Regions from separate parts of the Homo sapiens genome. Here all the other regions are reported to be linked to region 2. The links are microRNA targets in miRTarBase. Many come from high-throughput screens and were not tested one by one. Region 2 holds a microRNA gene; each other region holds the end of a gene's coding sequence.
The links. The annotated mature microRNA hsa-miR-4768-5p reads AUUCUCUCUGGAUCCCAUGGAU and lies in region 2 at 1,918-1,939, opposite strand. An mRNA with a match to its seed (bases 2 to 7 or 8) in the 3' UTR can be bound and repressed. Matches are read on the target gene's strand: a 7mer-m8 pairs with bases 2 to 8, a 7mer-A1 pairs with bases 2 to 7 and ends in A, and an 8mer does both.

Region 1 (4,510 bases), not on the chromosome of region 2:
GCTAATTTGGCTAATTTTGTATTTTTGGTAGACACGGGGTTTCACCGTGTTGGCCAGGCTGGTCTTAAAACTACTGAACTCAAGCGATCCTCTGGCGTCAGCCTCCTGAAGTGCTGGGAATGCAGGTGTGAGCCACCGCGCCTGGCCTGTTTTTTAAGTCTCAATTTCAGTATTTTAATGCCATCACCTATTTTAATCCCCAGGTCCATCATGACATCTGGTCATCCCTAGACAAGTTCCGAGTGCCCCCAGTCTTCCCCTCCTTCCTCACTCCTCGACCTCGGGAGCAGCCTCCCAACGGCTTTCCTGGGTCCGTCTTTCCCCTTTGATCAGAAACCCGCACAGAAGTCAGGCACCAGGTCTTCTGCCTGAGGCCTCTGGCAGCTCCCACTATGCTGTGAATGAACCCCAACTCCTGGCCTCCGCCTTCCCCTGCCCACCTCCAGCCATGGCAGCCTCCACCCCCATTCCCAGCCCACCAAGCCCTTTCCTGCCTCAGGGACATTGTACGTGCGTGCGATGCCTCCTCCACAGAGCGGACCTCCCTGACCACTGCCCTAATGGGCTTCTCCATCACTGTGGCCTCCACGGCACTTGTCACCACCCATTCGTTTGTTTACTGGTTGTTGTCGGTCACATACGAGTGTGAATTCCACCAAGGCAGGAATCACATTCTGGCTCAATCCCCACCGAATGCCCAGTGCCTGACACACCTGTTCAACCAGTTGCTCTCGTTCTTTTTTTTAAAAAACTTTTTGAGACGGAGTTTCGCTCTTGTTGCCCAGGCTGGAGTGCAATGGTGCAATCTTGGCTCACCGCAACCTCCGCCTCCTGGGTTCAAGCGATTCTCCTGCCTCAGCTTCCCGAGTAGCTGGGATTACAGGCATGGGCCACCATACTGGGCTAATTTTGTATTTTTAGTAGAGATGGAGTTTTTCCATGTTGGTCAGGCTGGTCTCGAACTCCCAACCTCAGGTGATCCACTCGCCTTGGCCTCCCAAAGTGCTAGGATTACAGGTGTGAGCCACCGCACCCGGTCTCTTTAAAATTTTTTGAGACGGAGTTTTGCTCTTTCGCCCAGGTTGGAGTGAGGTGGCGCAGTCTCGGCTCATAGCAACCTCCACCCCCTAGGTTCAAGCGATTCAGCCTCAGCCTCCCTAGTAGCTGGGATTATAGGCAACCACCACCACACCCTGTTAATTTTTTGTATTTTTAGTAGAGACAGGGTTTCACCATGTTGGCCAGGCTGGTCTTGAACGCCTGACCTCAGGTGATCCACCCGCTTCGGCCTAAGTGCTAGGATTACAGGCGTGAGCCACTGTGCCCAGCCTCAGTTGCCTTTTTCGACCTCTCTGTCTCTCCTGGGTGTGAGCCATTGTCTGCTATTGGTGCATTTTGTAATCTTTTGCGACATCCTTGTCCTTGCCTGTTACTGTGTATAGAACAGGGTTTATTTCTGCCTCTCTGGAAGGGTGGGCTAGAGTCTGGATATGTTGGAGGGAATATTATGTGTAGTGACTTCAGTGTTGTCTCTCCCTTTAAGGAATGGGAGGTCCTCTGCCTTCCATGTAGTCACTGCTGTTTCCATTCTACCATGTCGGCATCCAGCCTCTACCCCTTTGTTGCAAGAAAGAATAAATCTGATAAGAGGTACAGGAGAATCCCGAGACCTGGGATGCGCAGGGCAGATATGCCCACCTACACCGCTGTCTGGGGACCTAAAAACAACTCAGACACATGTTTTTACAACTTTTTTAATATATATTTTTATAAACAGGTCACGTGATAAAATAGCACAAGAAACACTTACCAAATATAAGGTTATATCTTCCGCATATACAGGAGAATGAGGTCGTTATGTACAATAAGAAAATGATTTTAGGGGTTGGTTGGTTTTGTTTTCCTCTCTCCCCTTAATTTTTCCTCCTACAGTCGTTGGAAATATCACAGCTTCAGTTGCATTAATACTTTGGGCAAATGGACAGCTGCCCCTCCCCACTAGGGGTTGTGGGGAGGAGGGGCTGGAGAAACTGGCTCCTGACCACTCAGCCCTGGAGCTTCCTGGGGCTGGCACTCCAGGGACAGGAAAATCTTTGGGCTGTTGATCTGTTTCTGATTCAACAGCATCTCTCTCTCTCTTTCTCTCTCTCTCTCACTCTCTTTCTCTCTCTCACTCTCTGGCTCTCTGGAAACTGGTTACTCTCTTCCAACCAGATAGGGAGTGTCCCAAGATTGGGTGTGGGCGCGGTATCTCCTGGGGCTCAAGGTTGGGATGGGAAGGGGTCCCAGCCCCCTCCTCAGCAACAGCTGAGATTTGCCAGCATCCCCCAGGACTTCCAAATGTCTCGGGCCGACAGAGCACGGTCAGAGCCCATTTGGGCAGACAGAAGTTTGGGAAGCTGGGGAGGGGTGAAGTGGGGGTGGGGGGGCAGGCTAGAAAGGAGCCCTCCCTCCTCGGGGTGTCTAGGGTGTGCTGGCCACTGGAAGATTGGAGTCGCTGACCCAGTGCTGACCCTGACCCTTGGCTGGGTCCACTCTGCAGACTCCACCTGAGGAGACCCACCCAGGGTGAAGCTCGGTGCCCAGGCCTGAACTGAGCCCGGCCGGGTGCAAGGGCTGAGGTGTGAGGTCGGCCCAGGCCTCTTCCCAGGCCTGAGGGTGGCTACAGCTCGAGGCTTGCAAGGTGCCTGCGCCACCCCTGGGTTGAGGCCGACCGGAGTCAGCTGGGATCACGTTAATGACTCCAAGCGATCGCCAGCCCTTCCGCCCTCTCCCTGCCCAATTCTCTCAGCCTGGCCAGGGACCAAGGCCGGGTTTTGGGGCGGACAGGGGACTGCCCCACACAGCGGCAAGGAGGAGGAGAGGCCGCGTGGGTCAGGCTGGATGGGTGAGGAGGTGCGGGTGGGGCCTGGGCTCTCGGCGGCGGGCCATGGCTTTGGCGGTGGCCTGTTTCCCCTGACACCCCTCGGAGGGCTCCAGGTATGGTGCGGTGGAAGATGCAGGAAGCCCGTGGGGCTCTTCTGGGCCCGTGTCCTGGGGGACCCAGCCCCCTCAATCCCACTGGGCCCTGCCCGGGATGGGGGGGACAGTGGGAAGACAGAGCGGGTGTGGCGGGGAAGGCGGTAAGGGCACAGTCTGGAGAGCTCAAAGCCCCCCCAAGGACCGAGCCCCGCCCCCCAAGCGGGAGGGCGAGCGAGTGATGGCGGCGGCTGTGGCTGTGGCGTGGCGGAGGGCGGCGTGCAGTGCGGGCACGAGGGGCATGCACAAAGTCCCCGAGTGTGCGTGCGTGCGTGGGGCGGGCCCACCCGCCGCCCCCCTGCCCGGGGCGGGGCTGGGAGGGCGGAGGGACCGAAGGTCGGGGAGGGGCTTTCCCTCGGCTCGCCCCGCCTCCCGCGCTGGGCCGGGGGCGCGGGGGCTCCCCCGAGCGCAAGGCGGGAAGAGGGGGCTCGGCGGCGCCCCGCGCCCCCGCCCAGGTCATGGCCGGGTTCCCGCGACCGGGGCGGGGGCCTCGCGCTACTCAATGACGAGGCAGCGGGGCAGGTGCTGCGAGAAATACTTGAAGAGCTCGGGGGTGGCCCCGGGGCAGTTGGTCAGCTCCAGCTCCTCCAGCTCCTGCAGCTGCACCAGGCCCGACAGCCCGGTGGTGGTGAGCAGCGGGCAGCCTGCGGCGGGGTCAGAGGGCGGCTCAGTGCGCGCGGCCCAGGGCTCGGGCGGGGACGGCCGGGCCGCGCCTCCCTCCTCCTCCGCCTCGGACCCGGGACTGTGTGTCCGCGCCGGGTGTGAGTTTGCACAAGGACCGGGCAGGTTGGGCGGGTGGACTAAGTGGGGGTGGGTGGTCACTGCCAGCGTCAGAGCAGAAACGGGGGTCTCACCTGCCAGAGACAGGAGGCGCAAACTCCCCAGGGCCAGGAGGTGCTTCAGCCCGAAGTCTTGCACCTGTCGGGAGTGGAGGAGCGACTTAACGATTTCCGCTCGCACCGAGGCGGAGGGCACCCTGGGGTCCATGGAGGGCTAGGCGGGTTCAAGCCCGGGGTTCCTCCGTCCCCCCCGGAGCCGGGAGGCGGCTGGGAAGTGCTCGTGGGGGCCGCCGGGACCCCTGCGTTCCGCTTAGGTCGGCTGCTGGATAGGGAGGGGCCCCAGACTCTCCCAGGATCTGAGTGGGGCCGGGAGCTCTCCCCGCGCCCCCACCTCCCCGCCGATCCCCCAATCCCGGGGCGTGAGAGCCGGTACCTGGCAGCACCATCGCAGGTAGAGGCTGCGGAGGGACGACATGGTGGACAGATAGCTGAGGCCAGTGTCCGTGATGCGTACACACCTGTGGTTGCACCAGAGGGGACCCCCACCTTCAAATCACCTGGCCCCGGCCATCCCTCGTCTTCCTGGGAGTGCCCCTGGCGTGAATCCCTTCCTGCCCCACCCGGAGCAGCCGCTGGCCCCTCCTCGCTCCCACCCACCGGGAAGGACGGGGGTCCAGCCAACCCGTGCTGCGGTTCTGCGGTTCCCACTCCCC
Region 2 (4,510 bases):
TGTAAAATACACAAGGGGTGCTTGATTTTTTAAAAAATATATTCTTAGGAAGTATTCCAACAAGAAAAGATGGTAGACCTCCAATGTGGGTCACAGCTGGCAGTCTGACCCCAAGAAGTTTGAACCCAGCCTCTATTATCTGTGCAAGACAGAACTGTACTTCTGCTTTGGAGTTAATCCCAGAAGAATTTATTTCTTTTCCAGCCCTTCACATAGCTTGTGCTTTATGGTGGCAGACTCAATGGACCAAACCTTCAGCTGTGGGAATCATGGCTTCAGCCATTGAACACACACAGCCCAGTCAGCTGGCAGAGTGGACAATAAACCTACAAACACTCAGCAAGTCACTCAGGTTCTTGATTCAAGAGTAAATGGCTTCATAAACACAATCATAACAACAGCGGCATGAGTTGGTGCATGTCAATGTGTACATTTCGGTAGAGAGGGCCCAGAGACACGTATTTTGGCAGATGCTAGGTCTTGGCAAGACTGTAAGCAAAATCACAAAGCAGCCCAAGTCTGTGGTCAGTCCCAACTTCCTATCAGTACACCTTTTCCATCCAGGCACCCCATAAAGGTGGATTTGGTCTCTTCCACATTCCATTAAGTGTAGCCTCAATTCCCAACAAAAACCCACACCACACCTCTTTTAAGGAATTTTATAGGAAAACTTTACCTAAACATGTATCCCCAAATCCTCTGAACTAGCAAAATCCTATTCAGGTTTATCTCCATGTCAGAGAGATGGGAAATATATCAAGTTCTGTCAGCAGGTCAGCCAGGCCGAGCATGCCAAGTGATCTGGGGTTATAGACAGCAGATTAATCTCAAAGCTGGAACTTCTTTAAGACCAGGAAGTAGCCCCTTTTCTGATTAAAAGACAAGTCAATAATTCTGGGTCCTTGGTCCACCACTGTGATATGTCCCTTGCAAAACAGGCACTCTCAGGCAGTCTTCCCTGCAGAGCAACCATGATGGATACTGACTACTGACTTGAAAGTGCTTTGACACCCCCAGATGGAAGGAACTAATCAATTATGCTTCTCACTTAGAGGCACCCTGCTCATTCATGCTGAAGATAGAAGTCCAGATAAAAGTAGAATTACTGGGAGTCCAAGATCCAGAAAGAAAATGAGAGAGCTCAGCTGGTCACTGTGAATGATGTGCATGTGCCCCAAGCCTTTGAAACACATGACATTTTCCAGCAGCCAAGCACTCATCAAATTGCAGAATGTCGAAGCTACAAGGAAACTTAGCAATTATTTAATGATCTAAATTACTTTTATTATAGTGAAGAGGAAGCTGAGGCCTAGAGAGGTAAAATAACCTGTCATATAGCTGAGCAGCGAAAGGAACAGACTCATTACCCTAGTGATCTCCTGTCACACAACCCATCTCATGAAGCTCTCTCTCAGGTCGAGTTTAATAGATGAGAGAACAAGGGGTAGTCTGCCTATGCAAAGCAGGTACACACAATGAGATCAGAGCAAAGGGGATTTCCTCCCCTGAAGCTAAACAGCCCCCATAAGTGATGTTACGTGTTAGGATAATTTCCTTGGTGTGCTGGAAGATGTTTCACAAGCATGGGTGGTGGGGACCCTTATTTGCCATATTTGCCAATTTCTATAGTGTAAATACTCTCATCATGGCAGATTTCAAGCTACCAACTTGATGCCACTGAACAGCAGTTGGGGAGAGATATGTGCAATCAGCTCTTGTGAGCTGATAGAAGCTGGATCCTCCACACCACTGGAATTTCTGAGAAGTCTACATCACGGGTTTAGGAATGAAATAACTTTCTGGCCCACAAGAATAAAACACCCAGGTTTATGAGGAAAATCCTAGCAGCACACACTCTAGGTTTCACTCACTGAAACTCTGATTCTCTCTGGATCTCCTGGACATCACAGTTCCCATATCCATGGGATCCAGAGAGAATCAAAGTTTGGAGAAGTTACTTGGTCCATCATGTCTGTATCTCTGGGTAGTATCCTACCTAATTGATCCAAGGCAGGAGCACTGAGAGGTGGAATCCACATTCCCTATCTTAATGCTTTTGGCAACCAAGCATTCCTTTCCCAGCAGTAACAGGATCCAGTTTCCAAGGTGATATGTGAGCTCAGAGCCCCATCTTTACCAACGTCAAAGGCAGTGCTTGGATTCAGCTTCAGGTAGGCCTCCTCTGTTCATGTAAGCAGGAAGGAAAACATGTAAAACTGAATTCCTCCTCAATTTCTTTCTTTCTTTCTTTCTTTCTTTTTTTTTTTTTTTTTTTTTTTTTTTTTTTTTTTTTTTTTTTTTTTTTGGCTGAGAAGAGTTCCAAGGCTGGGGCAGCAACTCATCAGGAAAAGTTCTTAGCCTGTGCTTTCTTTTTGCCAAACATTGATTTGCTAATAGAGAAAATAACTGGTGTATAAACAAAAGTGGTTGATGACATCCAAGGGTCTGGAGCAATTCCTCCACATCGTTCTGACAGCTAACAAATGGAACTAGCTCTTAGGGAGCATGTTTAAGGAACAGCTGGAATATGTAACGGACATTTTTCTGTGAATTTGACAGGTCAAGCTCCATCACGGTTGAGCTACGCTCACCGGACGTGGATCAGAATGAACTCTGCCATTCCTCAGAAGGTTGCCAAGAGGGCTTTGAAGAGAAGGGAATCCAAGGAACTCAGTTTCAGACATGGAGAAGAATAAAGACCAGACAAATCATGAGCAAACCTGATTTAAAGAGAAAGATCTATAAATACCAGTTGCTCAGCTTTCTCCCTGGTTTCCTGACCCTATGATGAGCTCCACCAAAATTAAGTAAGTATAGCCCTTTCCAGAGGGTCACTTGGAGGGAAGATCCTGCCATATGTCGCCTATTGGTCTTTAGCCTCACCACCACCCCAACATCTGATAAAGTCAACAGACGTGAGTTCCTAAAGGATACAGAATATACAAGATACTTTCCCTTATACAAGGATTCACTCTAAGCATCGTTAAAATGGCAAACTCACCTGGGACCCCTAAGATAACCTGATTTACCAAAATCTGGTTTATCCTTAGCATATGAGGAGCACATCCATTCTCTAAAGCAAGGAGATTTTCAAGATCAATGAGCAGAGAAACTTCTCAAAAGAATTTTATAGAATTTTTTAAGATAACAAGCAAACTAACAAATGATTGAGTAAACCTGGTACTATTCCTTTTCTTCTTCCAAACTCAAGGGAGTTATTCCAAACAATAACATACCTAGAAAAGAACCTGTGAAGATTGCAAGATTATCTAAAGAAGCCACCGGGGCAAGAGCGGTGGACATGCTTCTCCACACGGCCCTGCACCCAGACCACTCATTGTGAACTCCACCCAAATGCATAAACCTTTGGGAAGCAAAGGATGAATTGATTAGCTGCAATCTGTAGGCCCAATCAATCCATCTCCACACTGTAGGGACCTGCACAGAATCTCTCCTTAAAGTCTAGTCTTTCATGAGGAGAAATTCACCTCATAAAAGACATGATCAGAAGACATGACAGCCTGGAGGAGCAAACTACTGCTAGGTCAGTGGAAGTTCTCCTCCTGTTTGTGAAAGTGAGGAGAAAAGCACAGAGCATTTGTCCCTCAGCTTGTCTCCCTTGCAGTCTTCTCACTTATTATAATTCAAAAATTACCTCCATTTCAAGGAATCCTTCTCCTTCAGAGCTTTCAGCTCAAGGTGGCCTGGTTTGATCTCTCCTGACACCACTTCCTCCCTCCACCCCAAAGTAGATTAGGATCACCTTGGATAACCACCAGAACTTGATGATTAAAACATTCAGAGCAAAAAGATCTTCAGAGGTCATGCCAACTGATAAGCCAAGTTAGTAGCAAGGCATAAAATAAGGCATTACTGTCTTTGTTCTGTGCTGATCCATGCATTGTCCTACCTACCATGCCAGCACTTTGGTCTGTGAAATATGCAGAAAAGGCAAGAGAAACACAACTGCTGACAAGAGGATGAGGAAAGGAAGAGCACTTCCAGCAGGCATTCGCTGCCTTGCCTTAATACTTAGCACTTCCACAAGCCTTTTCATCTTCAAAGCACTTGAGGAACACTAGCTAATTAATCCTCCCAACATCCCTGCAAGGTGAGGAAGGATTATCTCCATTTTACAGATGGAGAAATGGAATATTTTGAACACAGGCATAAAACCCAGTGACAGATAGAATTGCCAGAAACTGGGCTGGGATCCTTCCTGGTGTCTTTGATGCCCACTCAAGCCTGCCAAGGTATCTCATCCCCAACCTGAGGACTGCCAAAAGCTCCTAACCAGGATCTAGCCGAGCAGACAGAGGGCCAGAGGCAAGACAGACAAGGCTCTCATGCTAACCCTTCCAAGTCTCTAATTAATTCATTATCTCACTGGACTGTCTGGTTAGGGGAGGCCTCTTTTGAAGCTTAGATGGAGGAGGAGGAGATGCCTGCTCAAGTCTTCTTCTAAGCAATGATTCGATATTCCTCTCTTATATCTTCACCCTGGTTGATA
Region 3 (4,000 bases), not on the chromosome of region 2:
CCTTCTAGCCATCTCCGTCATGATCTGTGGCTGTTTGGTCCATGAATAAGGTGTTGGGAGACTGTGAATCTCTTCTTAGCCTGTTGCCCACGATGGCAGCCTTGGTTCTGTGAATGGTGCTTTGGACCATAATGTACCTGTGTTTTCTGCTCACATTTCAGGCCCAATCCTGATGTTGACCAGCTAGAAGAGACACAGCTGGAAGAGGAGGCCTGTGCCTGCTTCTCTCCTCCCCCTTATGAAGAAATATACTCTCTCCCTCGCTAGAGGCTATTCTGATATAATAACACAATGCTCAGCTCAGGGAGCAAGTGTTTCCGTCATTGTTACCTGACAACCGTGGTGTTCTATGTTGTAACCTTCAGAAGTTACAGCAGCGCCCAGGCAGCCTGACAGAGATCATTCAAGGGGGGAAAGGGGAAGTGGGAGGTGCAATTTCTCAGATTGGTAAAAATTAGGCTGGGCTGGGGAAATTCTCCTCCGGAACAGTTTCAAATTCCCTCGGGTAAGAAATCTCCTGTATAAGGTTCAGGAGCAGGAATTTCACTTTTTCATCCACCACCCTCCCCCTTCTCTGTAGGAAGGCATTGGTGGCTCAATTTTAACCCCAGCAGCCAATGGAAAAATCACGACTTCTGAGACTTTGGGAGTTTCCACAGAGGTGAGAGTCGGGTGGGAAGGAAGCAGGGAAGAGAAAGCAGGCCCAGCTGGAGATTTCCTGGTGGCTGTCCTTGGCCCCAAAGCAGACTCACTAATCCCAAACAACTCAGCTGCCATCTGGCCTCTCTGAGGACTCTGGGTACCTTAAAGACTATAAAACAAAACAAAACAAAAACATCAAACCAATGAAATAAAATAAATCATGTCTCCTGCTAGAATAGTATTGGATACCTGACTAAATTACACAAAATAGACCATAATAGGATAGCGCTGTGAATACATCCTTCCCGATCACTGAGTCACAGTGACCCTTGGCTGCTGCTGTTCTCTTCTGCAAGGTTGAAGCTTGACGTGTGATGAACATGGGTGGGCTCTTGGTCCACCCCAGGCTGGGGCCTGCGCCAAGCATGAACTAGCTGGGACCAGTGGCTGACAGAACACAGGACTTCCCTAAGTACCCGTAGGTCTGTGGAGCAAGACAGAGCAGAGTTGCCATGTCAACACATGGGGAATGATATGATAGAAACAATCTTTATGACTAAAAGAAACTCATCTTCTTCATTAAAAAAACTTTGGTGTCCTTAATCTCTCTGAATTTGGCTGTGTAATAAACAACTGGAACTGACTCACAGACTTTAGAAGAGACAGTTTAAAACCATTAGGTTTTAAAAGAAAATATTTGCTTTGGGCTTCAAAGGCAATGCCACTCAAGGTAAGGGTGGTACATCCTAAAGGAAGACACAGGATTAAGCAATTCTTAAAAAAATTTTGACATAGCGTTTGTATATGGAGCAACTTTTACTAATTTTGATCAGAAGTATCTAGGTTTCCAAGGATATGAGTGAAGTAAGCTTGGTATATTATTGTTGTCATTTATGTTATATCTTGGGGACAAAACCTTTTCACATACACTGTCATGTTTGATGATAGGTGATAAGTGAAAATGATTTCATTTAAAGAAACTAGCTTTATGTTCAGCAGATCCCTGAGACACTGGTCCCTAGCTGAGGGCCATTGGTTTTGGAGAAGAAGTTTGGTGACAAGGACCAGGCTGAGCATCACCAGTGGCATGCTGACCAGCAGATGACATTTTGGGCCCCTCATGCCACCCTTGCCTTGAGTGCTTCTCTGACTGTCTCTCCCCAGCCCCCTGCCATTTTCACCCACCCCATAATTTTATGTTCATAAATTTGGGCTACAATGAACATCAAAAGTAGCTCAAAAAAGAAAATGTTATTAGGAAAAGGGCATCCCCACATACAGCTGGGTAGGGCAGAGCAGCCAGTTTGTCTTGGAGATGCCTAGAGTCAGATATGCAGGGAGGTGGCCTGGAGGGTTGGGATGGTTATTTTCTGGCACCAACAATTCCTGTTCCAAGACAGAGGGAAAAGTGCTAATGTAGAGGTCATTTATGCTTCCAAAGAGAGTGCTTCAGGGCTAATGGCTTCAAGAGCTCGAGGTAGGAGTAGGATCTGCAGCAGTCAGGGATCAGAAAACAGGAATTTGTTCATTAGTGCAATATTTATTTATTGAGCATCTACTCTGTGTCGGTCTGGGTCCATCAGGTGGAAATATAACTTAAAAATGTCACCAAGAAGAGAGCATACATGGTTCTGCCCTTGCAGAGCCTCTAGTCTAGTAGTCTAGTGGGGGAGAAAGATACGGATTCATTATCTGTATTAATCATCTATTAATTATTCTCTGACACCACTGAGAAGTCCTGTAGCCCTAAGAGGGATTTGGACTCATTAAAGGGTCATGAGGCTTGCTTCGGAAGTGAAGTCAGGGTCATTGCCTTGCATAATCCCAGAAAGCACTGTTCACAGGGTGTCTGTGGACCTGTGGAGACTGTGCTAGGAGCTAAAGGAACAGTGGCTGTCTCCTAGACAAAGAGGAGAGGGCAGGAGGGAGGGGCCTGGCAGAGCCCCATGTGGGAGGCAGTGTTATGAGGCATTCAGCAGGTTGTGTAAACCTTTTTATTTTTCTGCTGCTGCAACCCTCAAACAGAGGTGCCTTCCAGTAACCAAGAAATTACACCCACCGATTTTCTTGCTTTGAGACAACCACTCATGCTCTCTATTTCTTTATTTGGGAATTTCAGGGGCCAATCTGATGGGAAGCCCACTGTGTGGCTCCTAAACTCTGACTTCCAACCAGGTCCTTGCTACGTCTCTGACCAGCAGGACACATTCTCGACAGAGTTTCTGTTTTGTTGTCCAGATATTTGCCTTTTATCATTCTTTCACTCAGTATCTCATCAGGGATGAACCATGGGAAACTATGATCTGGGGCACTGATTGGAGTCCAGCTCCTGGCTATGCTCTTCTCCCTTAGATTATCAGTGGAGGAAGCAGCCCTGGCTCAAGGCGGGTACCTGAAGGTTTGGTGTCCAGCCAGAACCCACAGGGCCTGGTCAACCTTGTCAGTCTTGTCAAACATTTTAGGCTTTGTTTAAAGAGCAGTTGGGAAGCCATGGAAGTGTTTTTTGAAGAGGGAGCTGCGATCACATTTTGCACATTGACTGGTTAGGGCAAGACCCAGAGGGCATATACGGGTATAATATTCACTTTGCTGGTGACATTCAGAGCTAAGTGACCAGAATATCGGGAGCCATTTCTCCCCTCTCCTCCATCCTCAGCCTGGAGAGGGGCCATGTGGTGGGCATGCTCTGTGGATCTACACAGAATTAAAAATAAAGTTAAAAGGTCTTGTTGATTACAGGAAACGAGTTTCTTTTCTTTTCTTCTCTTTTCTTTTCTTTTTTTGAGATGGAGTTTCGCTCTTGTTGTCAGGGCTGGAGTGCAATGACGTGGTATCAGCTCATTGCAACCTCTGCCTCCCAGGTTCAAACGATTCTCCTGCCTCAGCCTCCTGAGTAGCTGGGATTACAGGCATGCACCACCATGCCCAGCTAATTTTGTATTTTTAGTAGGGATGGGGCTTCTCCATGTTGGCCAGGCTGGTCTCAAACTCCCAACCTCAGGTGATCTGCGTGCCTCAGCCTCTCAAAGTGCTAGGATTACAGGTGTGAGCCACCGCGCCCAGCCACGAGTTTCTTAAGAACTTGTTATCTCCTGGGAGCAATTTGGGCTGGGTTTTTTGCCTACAGTGACTGATAACAGCTGATGGTTTTGATGGAGAGGAAAGGGATCATCCAGGTTTGAGAAACAAGGCTCAGACACCAAGGGGAAGAAGCTTTCACAAAGCTCTCAGGACTTTTCTTTCTCCTTTTTGGGCCACTGGAGGGCAAATCTCTTGTGCAAGGAGGCTCTGTTTTCACTGCCCTCTGGGAAGTGCCTTCTAGAGGTGGAGGGCTTTCCAGAGATCCCAGTCACATTCC
Region 4 (4,485 bases), not on the chromosome of region 2:
GTTGTGCAACCTGGGACATGTCACTGCCTTTTCCCGGGTCTCAGTTTCCCTATCTGTACAATAAACCTTGATGATATGATCTCTGTTGTCCTTCCCTATTCAAAGAGTTATGATTTGGGGCCCCTTTTCCTGAAGTCTGCGCTCCTCTGACCTTCCTTTTCCCTCTGTACCCAGACCCCCGATGTCAGTTACTGACTTCGATCTCTGATTTGTGCTTCTAGGTTTTCTTCGTGTCTGACCTCTTCAAGACTAAGACGACGCTCTCCCTGCCTGCCCCTGCTATCCGGAAGGAAATCCTTTCACCTGTGGACATTATTGACAGGAACAATCACCACAACATGATGTAGGTGCCACCCACCTCCTGAGCTGTTTTTGTAAAATGACTGCTGACAGCAAGTTCTTGCTGCTCTCCAATCTCATCAGACAGTAGAATGTAGGGAAAAACTTTTGCCCGACTGATTTTTAAAAAGGAAAAAAAAAATGTTTTACTATGTGGCCTTCCAAAATAGGTAGTGTTTGCCTATGTGGAAACAACAGCAAACTAACACCAAGTGCCAGAGTCCTGGATGTGCAATTGGTTTAAGTGTTCATGTTCTAGTGAACACAGCTTGTTCAGGAACAAACACTAAAACGATTTGAGTAGAGGCTGCTGGTCACCTTTTGTGACCTGAGGAATCCCAGGCCTGTGAGAAAAGCAAAAATTCACATTGCAGCACATGATGCCAGAAATAGCACTGAATCAAGAAAATAGCCATTGCGGAGCTGCCCTCTTGAGTCTTTCTGTCCATCCCATTCTATTCTGTACTGTGACTTTAGTTCAGGAAGTTTTGTTTTGTGTTTTAAATAAAAGGAAAGAGCAAGTTTGCTCAGTCAAGTGATCAGATCCCGAATCTAGATTCCCAGTTCTAAGGCCTTATCACCTCCCCTGCCCATAGGCCAACAACCATAGTTCCTCACATTAGTGATTAGCAGACTCTTTGTGGACGAGTGAATTTCACAAACAGCACAATTTCAGAAGAAATCGAGGGCACAGGCCCTCACTTTTCTTCTTTTGACGCATCATCCTGTGATGTTGAAATGTCAATTGCAGGATGCTGATGTTGTGCACGTCAATCACCGGGCACTTGCATACTCTTAGAAACAGTTCGACTTCGGTTACTGCCTTCTCCCTTGAAATCCTTGCTGCGTGCCCACCAGGATTTCCTGTGAGGGCCCAGGAATGAGCAAGGCATGGTCTGCCACCAGCTGACGGAAAGCAGCCTTCTGTACAACAGATGGGAGGGTGAAGGGGGCAGAATGAAAATCGAACCAACCTTTTAGCTGTTGCAAATCAGAAGGAGCCAGAGAAGCAGGCAGTCTCATGCATGAGAGGTTACCCTTCAGGATGACAGAGCTGAGGGTCTTTGTAGGAGTTGCTCTTGCTGTGTAAAGCACTATTGTCTTGGGGTTGAGCCCTAGGGCAGTTCTTGGTAGGTTCTGCTGGGCAGAACATATGGGTTAAATCTCGGTAGAGAGTTTCCCTCATCCTCTATCCGTAAGTGTCCTTCCATGCAAGGTCCCACTCTAGGTGATAGACAGGGACCCCTTCTACTGAACCTTTGAGGAAAGGAGGAAGGAAGAAATGCGTTTAGATCTTGGATGCAGACCTTTCAAAGGGTTAAATGTAACCATATGGATCAACCACATGCACATCCTTACTACAGAATCCGTCCTTTCATTTCAACTTATAGCAAGCTATGATTTTTATATATAAATATTATATAAATAATGTATAAAACATTAAAAGTTAACTATGTAAGATATTATTTCTGAAACAATTTAGCTATATCCACTATGATTATAAACTGTGTCTCGACCTGTGTTATTTACATTAGCTGCTTAAAAAAGCATTGAGTTAATTTTTTTAAATATCAACTAAAATATCATAGTTCTGTGGTAGACATTGTTTTATAATGAAATAACTGCAACTAGAGAAAACTGTATAAAAACATTAAATTGTCAGTATTTTTGTAAGGTTCCATTTTGTAAAGAGAATAATATTCAAAGACTTTTGTAGCATACAAAGTGAAAACTTGTATCTGCGAAACTATACTTGTATTAAATGTGCTTTTTAAATAAAAGCTCGTAACACAACTAATTAAGGACTTGCAAGCCTGGAGTGTTTGAGAGATGTTTGTCTCAGGTGTGTGGGTAGGAGAAGGAAGCATCGCGGGCTGGCCTCTTTGAGTGGGCTTGCCTCATCTCAGCGCACCAACTCCTGATTTTTTTCAGTGGGAAATGTGGTGGTCATAGGGTAGATACCGATGTCTGCCCTGCTCTTTCATCTCTGAAAGCCTGTTTGCAGAATGAGGCCCTGGCTCTACCCTCATCTCAGGCTCTTCTAAAGAGCTTTTGTATTCTAAAGAGGATTTTTCCATCAGAGAGGTAGGAGCTGTAGGAACCCCGAGGGCAGATAAGCAGCCCTCACTCTAGATAAGGTATGCTGGGGGAGCTTACTGAGGGAATCCTGTACACAGCCCACATCAAAGGAAGGCTGAGAATGGCCTGTGGCTCCTGCTTCCCTTCCTTGTGTTTCTCCAACCTGGAAGAAAAGGGGAAGCTAGAAATTCACATTTATTGAGCACCTGTGTGCCAGGGATTTCTGCCTATTTGTTCTGTCTGATCTTCACAGCAGTTATTTTGAGAAAGAAAGAATACTAAAGAATGCAAAGATGAAATGATTAGTCTAAGATCCTAGAGCATTAAATTGTAGGATAGGTCTTATATTAATTTGCTATAGCGGCTATAACAAATTACCACAAACGTAAAACAGCATAGATGTATTGTCTTACAATCTTGGAGGCTCTAGGCAAGAAGCTGTTTCCTTGCCTTTTCTGTTTTTAGAGGCCACCCACTTTCCCTGGCTTGTGGCCCTCTTCATGTTCACATGGAGGAAGCAACATTGGGTAGAGTCCTCACCCTGCCATCTCTTTGGTTCTCCTCTTCTGCCACCCCTTTCACATGTAAAGGCCCTCCTTGCTGATTACACAGACCTGCTCATAATCTAGGATAATCACCTATATTAAAGTCAGTTCACTGGCAAACTTAATTCAATCTGCTGCCTTAATTCCTCTTTGCCATGGAACATATATTCACAGATGCCAGGGATCTAAGACATGGCCATATTTCGGGAACCATTATTCAGAGTACCAGAGTTCACCCTCTGGCCCTCAAAAGATTCACATCCATCCCAAATGCAAAACAGATCACCCTATCCCCACATCCCCTAAAGACCTAGGATATGGCAGTATCAAGTCAAAATCCTAAATCTTAACAACTTAAACACCCCAAATCTCATCATCTAAACTAACCCATTCAAATTAGGTAAAAAGGAGGCTCCATGTTTAATCCACCCTGGAATACATTGCTCTCTATGAACCTGTGAAAATTAAGAAACAAGTTATCTGCTCCCTAAATTCACTGGTGAAACAGGCATAGAATAACAGTTATAGACATTCCTATTTAAAAAGGGAGAGAAGCCAGGCGTGATGTTTCACTCCTGTAATCCCAGCACTTTGGGAGGCCGAGGCAGGCGGACCACGAGTTCAGGAGATTGAGATCATCCTGGCTAACATGGTGAAACCCCATCTCTACTAAAAATACAAAAAAATTAGCCGGGCGTGGTGGTGGGCGCCTATAGTCCCAGCTACTTGGGAGGCTGAGGCAGGAGAATGGCGTGAACCCGGGAGGGGGAGCTTGCAGTTAGCCGAGATCCCGCCACTGCACTCCAGCCTGGGCGACAGAGTGACACTGTCTCAAAAAAAAAAAAAAAAGGAGAGAGAGAGAGAAATAGACGGAAAAAAGAAGTCATCAGTCCCCAGCAACTTCAAAATCCAGCAGGGACCAGGCATGATGGCTCACTCATGCCTGTAATCCCAGCACTTTGGGAGGCCGAGGCAGGCAGATCACTTGAGGTCAGGAGTTCAAGACCAGCCTGGCCAACGTGGTGAAATCTCATCTACTAAAAATACAAAAGATTAGCTGGGTGTGGTGGCACACTCCTGTAATCCCAGCTACTCTGGAGGCTGAGGCAGGAGAATCACTTGAACCCAGGAGGCAGAGGTTGCACTGAGCCGAGATTGCACCACTGCACTCCAGCCTGGGCAGTGGAGTGAGACTCTGTCTAAAAAAAAAAAAGGAAAGAAAAATCCAGCCAGGGATGCTCCATTTGGCTTCAAGGCCTGGAAATAGACCCAAGTGGCTCATGTCTGGTTTCTTGCCACCAAGGTCAGCCTGCTCTTTGCTGCTGGACAATGCAGTCCCCTCCAGCCCCTGGAATAGCTCAGCAATTTCACAGCATTTTTATATAAGTGGTGATGTCCGTTTGAGCCCCAAAATGTAGCTAGTAAGATCCTTAAGGCCAGAGGCCAAATTTTCACTTCAAATCTGAAGAACCAGTGTCCAGAGGGGCAGAACAACTCTTGTTGGTGGGGGTAGGAGAGGGAA
Region 5 (4,510 bases), not on the chromosome of region 2:
TCTTCAAACGCTCCTCAGCCCTTAGCACACATAAGATAATTCATAGTGGAGAGAAACCCTACAAATGTGAAGAATGTGGCAAAGCCTTCAAGCGCTCCTCAAACCTTACTACACATAAGATAAGTCATACTGAAGAGAAACTCTACAAATGTCAAGAATGTGACAAAGCCTTCAAGTACTCCTCAGCCCTTAGCACACATAAGATAATTCACAGTGGAGAGAATCCCTACAAATGTGAAGAATGTGGCAAAGCCTTCAAGCGCTCCTCAGTCCTTAGTAAACATAAGATAATTCATACTGGAGCGAAACCCTACAAATGTGAAGAATGTGGCAAAGCCTTTAAGCGCTCCTCACAGCTTACTAGTCATAAGATAAGTCATACTGGAGAGAAACCCTACAAATGTGAAGAATGTGGCAAAGCTTTTAACTTGTCCTCAGACCTTAATACACATAAGAGGATTCATATTGGACAGAAAGCCTACATAGTGAAGAACATGGCAAATCTTTGAAATATTCCTCAACCCTTAATAAACATAAGATAATTCATACTGGAGAGAAACCGTATAAATGTGATGACTGTTGGAAAGCCTTTGACCACCCCTCTACTCTTACTAAATATGAGAATTTATATGAAACATAACTCCTACAAAAATAAAGAATGTGACAAATCATTTTAAGGAAGTTCTCAACCCTTACTACACATAATTCATACTGGACGGAAACTCTACAGGTGTGAAAAATGCAGCAAAGCCTATAACAAGTTCTCAATTCTTTTTTTTTTTTTTTAAGAAGGAGTTTCATGCTTCTCACCCAGCCTGGAGTGCAATGGCACGATCTCTGCTCACTGCAACCTCTTCCTCCTGGTTCAAGCCATTAACCTGCTTCAGCCTCCACCACCATGCCCAACTAATTTTTGTATTTTTGGTAGAGACAGGGTTTTGCCATATTTAACAGGCTGGTCTCCAACTGTGATTCACACACCTTGGCCTCCTAAAATGCTGGGATTACAGTCATGAGCATCCATGCCCAGCCACAAGTTCTCAGTTCTTAAGAGACATGGTGATAATTCATGCTGAAGAGGAACTTTACAAACTTGAAAGATGTGACAGTGCTTTTACCACCACCTCCAACTTTTCTGTACATAAAGATGATTATACTAGTGTGAAACCCTAGAAATAATAGAAAATTTGACAAATCCTTTATATGGTTGCAAGACTTGATTGTAGGTAAGATAATTCATACTGGCAAAACTCCTACAAGTGTGAAGAATGTGGGAAAACTTTTTAATCAGTGCATACACCTTATTTCACAGGAAAGCTAGTATCCTTGAGAAAAATTGCACAATTATAAAAAATATGGAAAACCCATTAATGCCTACTCACATCTTACCCAACAGAAGGTGGTTCACAGTTAATGAAAGCATTTAAAGTGCAATTATGCTCAAGAAATCTTTCAGAAAATAGAAGCCTTTAAAGTGAAGAAGAGTATTCTGAAGACAACCATTACACATATAAAGGGGGTTGTATTACCTTTACTTGCATCACAGATTTCATTGCACACATTTTGTACTAGAGGAAAACCCTGAAGCAGTTGCTCCAGCTTTGTTCAACAACAGGGAATTTATGTTAGAGAAGAATCCTGCAAATGTAGTGAATTTGGAAACAAATTTTTTTTCAAAAACTACAGCTTAGAAAACACCAGAGAGTTGATACTAAAATATATGTTTGCAGAAACAGTAAATATAAAAAATATTTAATTCAAAATGAATTCCATGTAAATATCAGAGAATTTACAGTAGAATAAGGCACTGATACTTCAGACATTACACTAAAACAGTGTTGAGTATAAAAAAGAATCCACAACAAAAATTGTTAGATAAATTATATATAGCTTTAAAAGGTTTTTTGAAGCATTGTAATTACATTGAAAGTATACTTGCTTTCTTGAGAAAAAATTTTTGAAAAGTGAATAAGGTAATAGAGCTTTCAAATTTATGCTGTTACTTTATTTCTATTCACATGTGAAAGCATGTGATCAATTGATGCTGCATCAGAGATATTACAGATTCTTTATTGGGCATTCCTTATAACCTTTTCTATTAAAGAGAAAGGATATTAAAATGTAAGATGCATGATGAAAATATAAGTGGACAGGCTGTTCGTATTTGACCTATATTAAGTAATGTATAAGGTAGTGTTCAGAGTAATACTTTTCTACATTATAGTGAGAGAAATTATGAATTACAGTTAAAGGTATATTAAATTACTGTATTATTTTACTAATTTTATGTAATAAAATACACTACATTAAAAAATTGTTAGATTGTGTGTGAAGTTAATTTTGTTGTATCCATTTATTTTTTTTTTTGAGATGGAGTCCACTTTCTCATCCAGGCTGGAGTGCAGCAGCGCAATCTCTGTGTGATCATTGCAACCTTCACCTCCCAAGTTCAAGCGATTCTCCTGCCTCAGTCTCCCAAGTAGCAAGGACTACAGGTGTGTGCCACCATGCCCGGCTAATTGTTTCACCATATCAGTCGGGCTAGTTTCGACCTCTTGAGCTCAAGTGATCCACCTGCCCCGGCTTCCCAAAGTGCTGAGATTGGCCTAGTTTTATTTTATTTTTTACCATATTAAGACTATTTTGCATTTAATGAAGCCATATTATGCCACTAACTTTAACCTATCCCACCTTACTCAAGGGTATAGTTACAAGATGGTAGCAGTATACTATTTGGTATATAGTAGAATAACATCATTAGTAATCACTTTGCCAGTGGCTTTAAATTAATTGAGTTGAAGAATATTTTTCCCATAGGTTAAATTTTTATTCTTACAGAAATTTATTCTTAGTATTTGTGGGTATATAGTATGTGTTTACGTTTATGCTTTATATGGCATACTGTGATTCAGGACTACAATATGTAGTAATTACATTAGGGTAAATAAGGTATCCATCACGTCTAGCATTTATCCTTTGTATTACAGTGTAATTATACACTTTTAGTTATTTGAAAATGTACAATTAAATTTTAATTGACTACAGGGTTATTTTTATGGTCGTAATAAAAATTATACAGAAATATAAAAAGAATATGGCCAGATGAAGTGGCTCATGCCTGTAATCCCAACCATTTGGGAGGCTGAGGCAGCTGGATTGCCTGACGTCAAGATTTCAAGACCAGCCTGGCCAACATGGGGAACCCCTGTCTCTAAAAATATAAAAATTAGCCAGGCATAGGAGCACCTGCGTGGAGGCTGAAGCAGGAGAATAGCTTGAACAAGGGAGGTGGAGTTTACAGTGATCCGAGATTGCACCACTGCATTCCAGCCTAGGCAACATTTCTGAGTCCTGAAAAATTATTAATAAATATTTGTTACATAGTTTTCTATAAACTTGTGGTTTCTCTGCCTGCAAACACAAGAGTTTTAGTTTTAATTTTCATAGAGTGAAATATCCACATATTACTCTGAAGGTAAACCTTAGGTGTAAGAAAAATATAAAGTGAGTAAGTGTATTTGTGAGTTTGCTTTGGTACATATTTTCAGAAGAAAAGCACAATTATTGAAACAAAACAACTTATTTTAATTTGGTGAATAACAGAAAACACCTTCAAAATGTTGAAAGCAAATCTACACTTTCTGCTTTGTATTGAATTTATTAATGTAAAATTTTATAGCTTATGTTTCAAATTCTTTCCAGAATCTGCCTATTGAAGCACAGGCAATTTTGTCTCCATAAATAACACTCTTGAGTACAACAATAAAAGCCCTCTTCAAACAAACAAATTATTTATAACACTTATTTTAATGAAAATGTAACCAAAAGTATATAATTGGGTATATTTTTGTTGTTCTATGTGTGTGCGAATGTATAAATTGGTACATAAGGACAAAATAATTTAAGCCAGAAAAAAAGATGTTAGCTAATATTTGTAATGAATAAAACTGGAAAGTAGTTAATTATTATTTGCACATAATGTCTTTGTTTACGTAGATAACAAAACAGCAGAAAGACTATTTTAAAATTTTATTCAAGTGGGTAGGTAACATTCTAAGATAATACGCTGGATTCCCAGTCTGTTGCACACCTGCTGTGTAATACTTTTTCCTTGAGTGTAAAAAAATGTGCAACTGGTGGGAAAATCACTCAAGAAATTAGGTTACTCATGTGTTGACTTTGTGTTTATCAAAATGGAGATTGTCCTGACTGTGCTAAACTTAATCAGAGGTGCTTTTAAGAGAAAGACACATCATAGAAAAACACCCCTGCTTGCCTGAAAGTAAGTGACTTCTAGGTGGGCCATGTTGCAAGCTGCTTATGGTGACCACATGGCAGAAAACATATTTGTACATTGTTATCATTCCTGCCCTTCTGCATGTTGCTTCCAGTAGGGAGAATCTAAGGATCCTATGACAGGGAAAAAAAGGAAATCTCATTCATGCAAGAAATAATCACCTCTCACCTGGGATAGCTTAAGAGAAGCAGGAGACCACAACAGAACCACATA
Region 6 (4,510 bases), not on the chromosome of region 2:
AGTCAATGATCTTGAGTCAATTGCTGAATAGCTATGAAGATCTATTGACACACTTAAGGCAGGGTCAGCTGTCTTTGGTACCATCAAGTGGCAAGAGGACTCCTCCACAGCCAACAAATGATGTGGAGTGAATGTGATAAATTATGAAACTACTTGGTACAATATCTGCCCCCTTCCCCTTCATCCGACTACCTGCTTAAAATGGCTCACTGTTTGCCTTAACACTGCAAGCTCTGATCCAGTACTCTATCTTCTCACTTTCTTCTACAGTATAAGGTTGAACACTGTACTCCATCGGTCCCTATACCACTGAAACACTCCTGTGCTTCCAGGATGTTGTCCATCTTGTCTGGTAAACCATTCACTCAATAGGTTAATCTTAGGTAACTAGTTATGTTAACAATGGGTTTGTCTTAATTAGGGGCGGGATGGGGGGGCCCTCTGTTTTGTTTGTGCAGACATATTATCCCATCCTTTCTTTCCTAATCCAATAGATCTATTACTGGGGGTTACCAGGCTAGGTGGCTACACCTAAGTCTCCAACAGCCTTTTTCATATATATTCTGCCTTAGCTTTCATGACAGAACATTGTAATCTTTCTGATTCTCTGTCTTTTCTATATGCTTGGTTGAAAAAATACTGCCTATTGCAAAAATTATTAGTATGGGGACCGTACCTCCTGGTTTATACCTGTTGTCTTGGTGTAATTATTAACAGCACTCCTTTTCATTTTCAAGTGTCCCAGATTGGACAATAAATTATATAGTTACCTTATGTGTGTGGACCACTAATATGCTAATTAGATACAGATTTTCAGGCTCTGCCTCAGAAACTGATTCAGTAGGTCTGGGGTGGGGCTGAGAAAACTGCACTTCAAACCAACAACCCAGGTGATTCTAGTGCAGCTATCATCAAGAAATAGTGCTTTCAACACTGCCCATTGGCAGTTGGCATAGAAAAATGGGGATAGGTTCAAGGAGATCTAAAAATCACAGTGGTTTATAGACTGCTTTTCTCCCTGTCCTCCATTTTATGGAAAGTAATAAAAAGTGTGAGGAGTAAAAGGCAGTGAGATTTTCACTGCTTAAGACAATAGTATCTAAAAACTTGGACCAGTTGATAAATAAGAGAGATTTCTAATAATTATTATGAAGATGAAGCATGTTTCTTGGCAACACTCTGTCTCTGCATCTATCTTTTTATTTTTCCTTTGGTCAACATTTTTTGCCCAATCTAGAGTTTTAGCATCTAATTTTACCTTCTGTCTGATTCTTTTTTATGTTCTTATATTTTGTTCTTTTTTCTTTCCATCCCACTTTGTTGTTGCTGTTGTTTGCAGATGCCTACAGTGGGTCTCAGGGCTCCAAGTGTAAGTGTCTATGAAACCATATATAATTCACAATTATCTTTGTTCATAATTGGTTTCCTTTACAAAATTTTTAAGGCAATAAAAGACAGAAAGATTACTACAAGTGCTTAAGCACTTTGGACTTCACTTTTCTCATTATCTTAAATGGAGAAGCATTTAAGATATTTATAAACTCAGAATACTATAGAATATGTATTACATCACTTTATGGAATACATATTTACTTAAGAAGTTGATTTTACTTCAAAATCGAGTCTACTATATTTTTCTTAACTTCACTCAAAAATCTGTAGCTATTTATCTTGGAAATAATTTAACCTCAAGACACAATAAAAAATACTTTTCAGGAAATATAAGTTTTTTATAATACCCGCAATAAGCCTTAAGTAGTGACACAAACAGTTTGATATGTAAGGTGTAAGAATATGTGATAGAACTAAATACACTAAACTGAAAAATACCACCCATCACTTCTCCATTTCTCTGTAGAAGAATTATGTGCAATTCTGGTTGCCCACGCCTTGTTTCCTAGCTCATATGAAAGCTGTTAGCTTTTGAACAGAAGGAATTTAACTTGGACTAAACTGGGGAAAAGAATGAAACAGAATATGTAACATTTTAAAATAGTGAGATTTTTCATCTATAGGAGTTTGTTAAACTATGGAGTATGAACAAATAAAATTCTATTCACTTATAAAAAGAATGAAGAAGTTCTGTTATGATGTGGACATCTCTAAAGATTATATTCTTTCATGAAAACAGCAAGGTATTAGAAGAGTATAAATAATATGCCATCTTCCTGAGTAATGGAAGAAATAAGATTATACATTCATATTTGCCTATATTTACATAAAGAAACACTGAAAGATACATAAGAAACTAGTACAATGGCTACTTATAAAGGGAAAGTAGACCTTTTTGTATTATTTTGATTTTTGAACCAGGTGAAGAATGAATTATCTTTTTAAAAAAGTCCTACTGAGTAAATTAAATTTTAAAAGCTAAAAATAATAATTACAAAAATAAAATGCTTTCAATGAGGAATAAATGAGAAGAGTCTTTCCTGGACTCCACTGTAAATTAAATAGAGGAGTTGTGCTTTATTGAAACATATAAATGGGTGGGTTTGTTGAGCAACTTCAGTGACTTATAAATCCTATAAATTCCATATACTTGTAATTTTTATTTGGTGATATAATGCCTCCAGTGGCTTAATAGAATGTTACACTAGGAAGTAGGAGACAGGGTTCTAGTTCCAGCTCTGCTTTTAACTGGCTGTATGATCTTAGTTACTTCCCAGAACTTCCTTTTCTCTTATCTGTCAAATAAGAGCAAGCAGAAGTGATCTCTAAGGTCCCTTAGAGTGATTCTGTTATTCTAAAGTTACTTGCTATGTATTGGGTATTTGGGTGTATTCCAAACCAGATTGTTTTCACCATAGGTTTTCCATTTCTTTGTCTCCTGGACCTTGTGTAAAGCTTTGTAAAGAGTTACTAAGTCAATGTTAAGGGAAATAAATTTTTTTATTTATGATCTTGGTGGTAATCAATAGTAAATGCTGAGAAAATGTGGAGGTTATAAAAACAATCAACATGAAAGAGTGATCATACTCTTCTCTTCAATCTTGAATATGTTTCAAATTTTCCATACAAAATATTGAATAAAGGAGAAAAAGGCAAAAACAAAAAAATGCTCATTATATGTTACGGGAAAAATACAAAGAGGCCTGTATTTTCCAATAAGAAATCTGAGGTGAGATATCAGATTTTTAGCTAAGTTTCTTAGCCTCTGCGTAAATTTAAAATCATGAGCAATATTTGTTATGAGGAGCCACTGAGCTGCTAATAACATATGGCTGCTTCAGTTCCTTGGTTCCTAAAGGCTAACTAAAAAATCTATAGAAATCTAACTTACTATAAATCTACATTTATATAGGAGGATTCATCTGCCCCTTTTTGTAGGTTACAAAACAAATTATCATATTTTATGTGAATGGAAAGAAGTCAGGAAACCTATATTATGAATTTTATTACAATTATTTTTAAGTTAATTTTTAAATACTCGGTGAACTGCATTTGAGATTATTTTGTACTCAGCCTACATATAACTATTTTAAACTTTTAAAAAAAGTTTTTAAAAACTAGGATGAAGAAGTTTTCCTGAAATAGAAAACTTCTTGCACAGATGTGTGTGAAACTAGGTCTACAGCATACATGATGAAATCAACACAAGAGGCAACATTCAGTATTGCAAAGCTGTGGATGTCACTGATCAGAGAACTCGGCAGATGTATTTAAGATATTATGCTTCTCTCTGCATAAAAGTAAGGGAATTTTTACTGGCTTTCCCTTGAACTTTTCTATGCTAGAGGACACAGCAGGGACAAAGTAAGAAATATTATCCCCTACCTGTTCCAAGGAGCTAGCTTGATTCAGCCACTGGGTGGACTTTCCGATGCTGGATTAGGTTGCAATGGTAAATGAAGTTCTTGCCACATTCTTCACATTCATAAGGTCTCTCTCCAGTGTGAATTCTCTGATGCTTAATGAGGACTGAACGTCGACTAAAACTCTTATTGCACTGATTGCACTGGTAAGGCTTCTCCCCAGTGTGAATTCTGAGGTGATGGAAAAGCCCGGCATTCTGGCTGAAGGCTTTGCCACAAACACTGCACTGGTAGCGCTTCTCCCCAGTGTGGAGTCTCTGGTGCTGGAATAGGCCTGACCTCTGGCTGAAGGCCCGCCCACACTCATCACATTCATAAGGCTTCTCACCTGTGTGTGTTCTCTGGTGCTCGATAAGGATGGAATTCTGGGTGAAGCTTTTTCCACATTCACTACAGATATAGGGTCTCTCCACTGAAGAGCTCACCCTTTGCTTTTCCAATCTGCCCTCACGGTCACAGGTATCTCCATACTCAGGAATCTGAGTAATATTACCATTCTGTTTTCCAAGAACTTGTATAAGAGATTTCACTTCCTGAGAAATCTCCCTCTTTGGGGCTAACTCCACATTCCAAGTCCCAGCCTTGCCATCTAAAATAACGATAACATGAAAGATAACATGAAGTATGAAAAATAACAGATTATCTTTCCAAAGACAAAAGAAAAAAAGTGGCCAGGAGAATGGGTGGAAGGGGAC
Region 7 (4,502 bases), not on the chromosome of region 2:
TTAAAGGTTGAGGGCCACCTTGGGGGTGGGCTCAGGGTCAGGAAGAAGCTGGAATTCACCACCTCATCCTTCGCAGCCTTCCTCTTGCCCTGTCTCCAGGCTGTCTCTTCAGTGCTGGTGTGGCACATCACGAAGTGATGGAAGACGTGGCACTGTGCCTGCACCCAGAAGCTGGCCATGTGGTTCATCCACGAGATTGGGCCCTTTCTGCACTTGAACATGGAGTCCTTCTCAAGATGGCCTGCGGTCTGCCTCTTGGCACCCAAGAAGCCCACAGTGCTGTAGGAGCCCTCATGCATGGACTGGAGCCCCAAAGGCAGCGCACAGCCTGCTCCTGAGCCTGCTGCTCATTTCCTCTATGTGGCTCCATCTGCAGCACAGTGGTTGCATTGAGGCCTGTGCATGCCAGGCAAGGCCAAGCTGGCTCAAAGAGCAACCAGCCACCTCTGCAAGGGTGTGCCAGGAGCAGGTGGACCAGCCACCAACCTCACTCGCTGCCAGTCAGGGTAAATCAGTTATTCTGCCCTGGAGGTAGGGCCCCAGTGCCATCTGCTTTTCCTCAGGCCTCTGCTCCATCAGCCGTCAAGTGGCAGCCCCTCAGGCTGTGGGAACCTGGCCACCCCTGATTCCTTGAGTGGGTGAGGTTGGTGGCCGGTCCACTTGCTCCAGGCACACCCTTGCAGAGGTGGCTGGTTGCTCTTTGAGCCAGCTTGGCCTTGCCTGGCATGCACAGGTCCTGGGTACTGACACCCTGCTCTGAGTGAGCTTGTCCTGTCTTGGGCCAAATTCTAACTCTGGCCAGGGCCACAGAAGGCTGAGTCCCCTGGGTGGTAATGCTGACTGCTGCTGGGGGGACCATAGTGCCCCTCCCCTCCCAGGGCCCAGGATGAGGCCCAACTGGGCCAGGACCCTTTAGGTATGGATCTCGCTCCCCAGCAGGGGGCCTCTGTCCCACAGGTTGGATGACAAGATGCTGCTGGCTGCCAGGGTTGTTCGGATGCCACGTTCACCCTTCCCTCCAGGGACATCAAAGTTTCCAGCTTCCCCTTTGAGAATGACTTCCCAAGGCCCAGGTGCCATCTGGGGCTGCAGGGCAGCTGGCTGCATGCTGCCCTGGCTTCTTCCATGTTGGGCTGGTCACTACCCACCAAGGGGGGTCAGATGCAGGAACCAAGTAGGGCGGTTGTCTCTGGACCTGCATCTTGGTTATCACGGAGCGAGACTGGGCCTGGTGACAGGGCCATGATGGGGTTGTCCTGGTGGTCCTGGGGGTGTCCAGAGGAGATGCAGAATGGAATTGCTGCAAGGATGAATGAGATGACTGTCAGCACAGAACAGGCACCTGGTGAGTGCTCAGGGATTACCCTCAGTAGCTGCCCAGAGGCCAAAACCACCCACCCGATAGCGACTGTCCCCAAGCCAGGAGGAAGAGAAGAGAGCAGGTCCCACTCACCTGAGTCCGATCAGTCAGCTGTGTTGAGATGTGCCTTTCACCTAGAAAACAATCCTTCATGCAGAGCCACTCACAGAGACTGCTGCGTGTCTCTAACTGCTCCACAACACAGAGGCGATGGGGACTCAGCAAGAGTGACATTGTGGGGTGACACAACCCACCACAACAGGAGCCTGCTTGGGTCAAGAGGGCCCAGAGTCGGTGTCCTCTATCCCCTGAACTGACATGTGTGCATGCATTGTGTTTGTGTATGCGTGTGTGTGTGTACATATGGGTGTGTTTGTTTGTCTTGCTTCTCTGGCCAGGCCTAGCTGCTCCACTCACAGGTGCACCCAGGTCCTCATCACTGTCACCACCAGGGCCCAGGGCCAGGATTAGAGCCTCCCACAGGTGCTCCCCAATTTCTTCCCTCTCCACTGAGGGTGGTCCTGGGGATGCAGACAGAGGAGGGGTGCCGAGCAGAGCAGAGAGGGCTGGCACCCTTTCTAGGTGGAACCCAGGTACTGTGTAAAGTTGGAGGTCTGCCAAGCAGTGCTGAATTCAACACATCTTCTCACGTTCTCTTTCCAGCCACCCTCCAGGGTGCCCTGACTCACCTTCCCTACAGATGGAGGCAAAGAGGCTCCACAGACAAACCCCCTGCCTGAGGTCACACATCGGCTAACTGGCCAGGTTCCTACTGACCAGGTGGCCCCAACGAGGCCCCTAATGAGCACTCCCCCATTGACCAGGCCCCACTGACCAAGTCCCCACGGACCATGTCTCCCTAACCAGGCCCCCATTAGTAGGCCTCATGGACCAGACCCCACTGACCAATTTCCCACTGACCTGGTCCCCACTGACTGGGTTCGCACTGACAAGACCACAATTTACCAGGTTGCTGCTCACCTCACCCCCATTGAATAATTCTCCATGGATCAGTCCCCAGCTGACTGAGCCCCCTCTGACCAGGCTCTCACTGACCAGGCTCCAAGCCACTAAGGCCCCACACTGACCAGACCCCTAATACACTGAATACACCCCACCGACCAGTTTTTTATTGTTTATGTTCCAACCGATCAGGCCCCACTAATAAGAGCACCACTGACCAGGTCCCCACTGACTAGGCTTCCAATGACTAGGTCACAAGATACCCACTGGGTGAGGCCTTCACTGAGGCGGCCACCACTAACCAGGTCCCTGCTGATCAGGTCCCAACTGACCAGGTCGTGATGGCTAGGTCATCTCTGACCATGGTCCACTGACGAGGCCCTTGAGCAGCTGTGTTCAAAGTCTCATTACAATGCCACCATCAGCTCACAGAACCTCCCCTCCCTGCATGTGTGCCCAGGGGTCAGGCCTGGGGGGTTTTCTTGGGCTGCAAGGCCTCTCCTCCAAGACACAGGGAGGGAGTCAGCCTCAGGCTCCAGGTACCCAGCTTCACACTCACCCCGCAAGGCCCTCTGGGCCCATCTCAAAGGAGACAATGAGGTGGCCTGGCACTGCCTGGACATGCCATCTTCCCTATTCCTGAGTGTCAGAGTGGGAGGAAGGGAGGGACATTTGGCAGACAAGACATCCTGTGCTGCTGGGTCTCCCAGGGCCCTTCCTGAAGAGCCCCGACCTAGAGACACAGCACAGAGACTGCAGGGAGACTAATCAAGAACCCTTGAGGCTGAGCCAGGGACCACATGAGGACTGTCCCCAGACAGCTAGAAGGCCCTTTGCTAGTTTCTTGGTACCTCAGTGGATGCGACAGTGGTTCTTCTGTTGGGGACTAGTGAGCGCATGATGGGAAGGGCTCGCCTGTGCTTCCTTGGTGCTGCCGCAGAGAAAATACATTAGTTTAGAACACCTTGTGCCAGAAAGTAAAAAAGTGCTGACAGAATAATGGGGACAATTCAAAAAGACATAAAGTCAGCTTGAAATGTCTACCACTGGCCTAATCTTGGGGAACTGGAGCACCAGAATCATGAGCTTTCCCTTCTCCTTTATTTATTGGTTTTATTTCTCCATGTAGAACAAAGAAGAAAATAAGAAAAACAATCATCTGGCAACCATCACAGTAATACTTGTTCAAACACAAGTCATCCATGAAATGCTAAATCTAGTGGGTTTTGAGGAGTAACCAGATATTTACAGAGCTTCAAAGTATCTCCACACAAAATACTATTGAGCTACAAGAAGAAAACCGTAACACTAGTATGGACAAACCTGGCAGATACTCTTTAAGTCTCCTACTACATATGGTAATAAAAACTGTAAAATGCAAAGAAGCCCTCGATGACCTTTACTAAAGTATCAATGATGACTTGGTTGTTTGGCTGTTTAAACAGCTGACATTCAGGCAATTTGAGTAGGCCAAACTCAATAACGCTGGTGTTCATTTGCAAGATCCACTTAAAACTTAAGGAGGCTAAAAAACATCATTTAAAATAACATATAAATATACACCATATGTGACATGAAAATATTCTACTTTAGTAAAGATTATGATGTTTTATATTATATGAGAAACAATTAAAATTTCATGTAAATAGCCCAGTAATAAAGTTTTATGATCTTTTAAATCATACAACTTTTCCTTAAGATTTTATGGTTAATCTCTTCATTAGATGTGGCTTACCAGTGGATTCTACAAAAGAAAGTAGACGGGAGCAAGTGCTCAACATAGCAAAACCTGGAAAGAAAAAGAAAGGATTATGTTCTTTACCTAAAACATTTCAGTTAACGAAGTGTAAGTTTAAAATGTGGAGTTGAGAACGTTATCAGAGTTAATAAGAATGAGAAATATGTACGTGCAATTACAATACAAAATTACTATTAAATCATTTACACATGGCGTTAATTCCAATTGTGGTTAAATATCACAGCTTTTTCATTCTTCATTCATGTACTCAACAGCCACGTGCTAAGGTACTAGAGCCAGCACTGGAATTACAAGATGAAGATGGCATGGTCCACCTCCCAATAGTCATATGCTATAACCTAAAAGACCGGCAGGTAATGTCCATATAGAGTCATAGATACCATGACAGGTATACAGCAGGGCACTACTGGAACATACAGA

Region 1: miRTarBase lists FBXL16 as a target of hsa-miR-4768-5p. Seed matches in the 3' UTR shown: 7mer-m8 at 2,783-2,789, 8mer at 2,161-2,168 and 8mer at 2,139-2,146.
Region 3: miRTarBase lists TMEM174 as a target of hsa-miR-4768-5p. Seed matches in the 3' UTR shown: 7mer-A1 at 691-697.
Region 4: miRTarBase lists PLPP3 as a target of hsa-miR-4768-5p. Seed matches in the 3' UTR shown: 7mer-A1 at 1,970-1,976.
Region 5: the mRNA of ZNF90 is a reported target of hsa-miR-4768-5p. Seed matches in the 3' UTR shown: 8mer at 552-559, 7mer-A1 at 2,103-2,109 and 8mer at 2,226-2,233.
Region 6: miRTarBase lists ZSCAN23 as a target of hsa-miR-4768-5p. Seed matches in the 3' UTR shown: 7mer-m8 at 3,677-3,683 and 7mer-A1 at 2,678-2,684.
Region 7: the mRNA of ANKRD18A is a reported target of hsa-miR-4768-5p. The part of its 3' UTR that is shown has no 7-base or 8-base seed match.

What each region holds. Positions count from the first base shown.
Region 1 is chr16:690,762-695,271 of GRCh38, forward strand. FBXL16 (F-box and leucine rich repeat protein 16) reads right to left here. Exons shown (of 6, transcript NM_153350.4): 4 at 4,231-4,315; 5 at 3,873-3,936; 6 at 1,739-3,662. The coding sequence ends at 3,514. Among named protein-coding and RNA genes, the nearest start is that of WDR24, 2.6 kb to the left of the region's middle. RefSeq lists an enhancer at 1-65.
Region 2 is chrX:17,423,318-17,427,827 of GRCh38, reverse strand. MIR4768 (microRNA 4768) reads right to left here and starts at 1,947; the gene lies at 1,874-1,947. All of the region lies in intron 1 of NHS (NHS actin remodeling regulator), which reads right to left.
Region 3 is chr5:73,173,899-73,177,898 of GRCh38, forward strand. TMEM174 (transmembrane protein 174) reads left to right here. Exons shown (of 2, transcript NM_153217.3): 2 at 162-1,245. The coding sequence ends at 267. Among named protein-coding and RNA genes, the nearest start is that of TMEM174, 2.7 kb to the left of the region's middle.
Region 4 is chr1:56,492,413-56,496,897 of GRCh38, reverse strand. PLPP3 (phospholipid phosphatase 3) reads left to right here. Exons shown (of 6, transcript NM_003713.5): 6 at 222-2,137. The coding sequence ends at 347. Among named protein-coding and RNA genes, the nearest start is that of LINC01767, 80 kb to the right of the region's middle. RefSeq lists an enhancer at 2,163-2,821.
Region 5 is chr19:20,118,852-20,123,361 of GRCh38, forward strand. ZNF90 (zinc finger protein 90) reads left to right here. Exons shown (of 4, transcript NM_007138.2): 4 at 1-2,314. The coding sequence ends at 509. Among named protein-coding and RNA genes, the nearest start is that of ZNF90, 43 kb to the left of the region's middle.
Region 6 is chr6:28,430,675-28,435,184 of GRCh38, forward strand. It overlaps ZSCAN23 (zinc finger and SCAN domain containing 23), which reads right to left. Exons shown (of 4, transcript NM_001012455.2): 4 at 1,981-4,404. The coding sequence ends at 3,791. Among named protein-coding and RNA genes, the nearest start is that of ZSCAN23, 11 kb to the right of the region's middle.
Region 7 is chr9:38,567,948-38,572,449 of GRCh38, forward strand. ANKRD18A (ankyrin repeat domain 18A) reads right to left here. Exons shown (of 16, transcript NM_147195.4): 16 at 3,417-4,112. The coding sequence ends at 4,098. It also overlaps the pseudogene SNX18P3. Among named protein-coding and RNA genes, the nearest start is that of FAM95C, 25 kb to the left of the region's middle. RefSeq lists an enhancer at 915-1,584.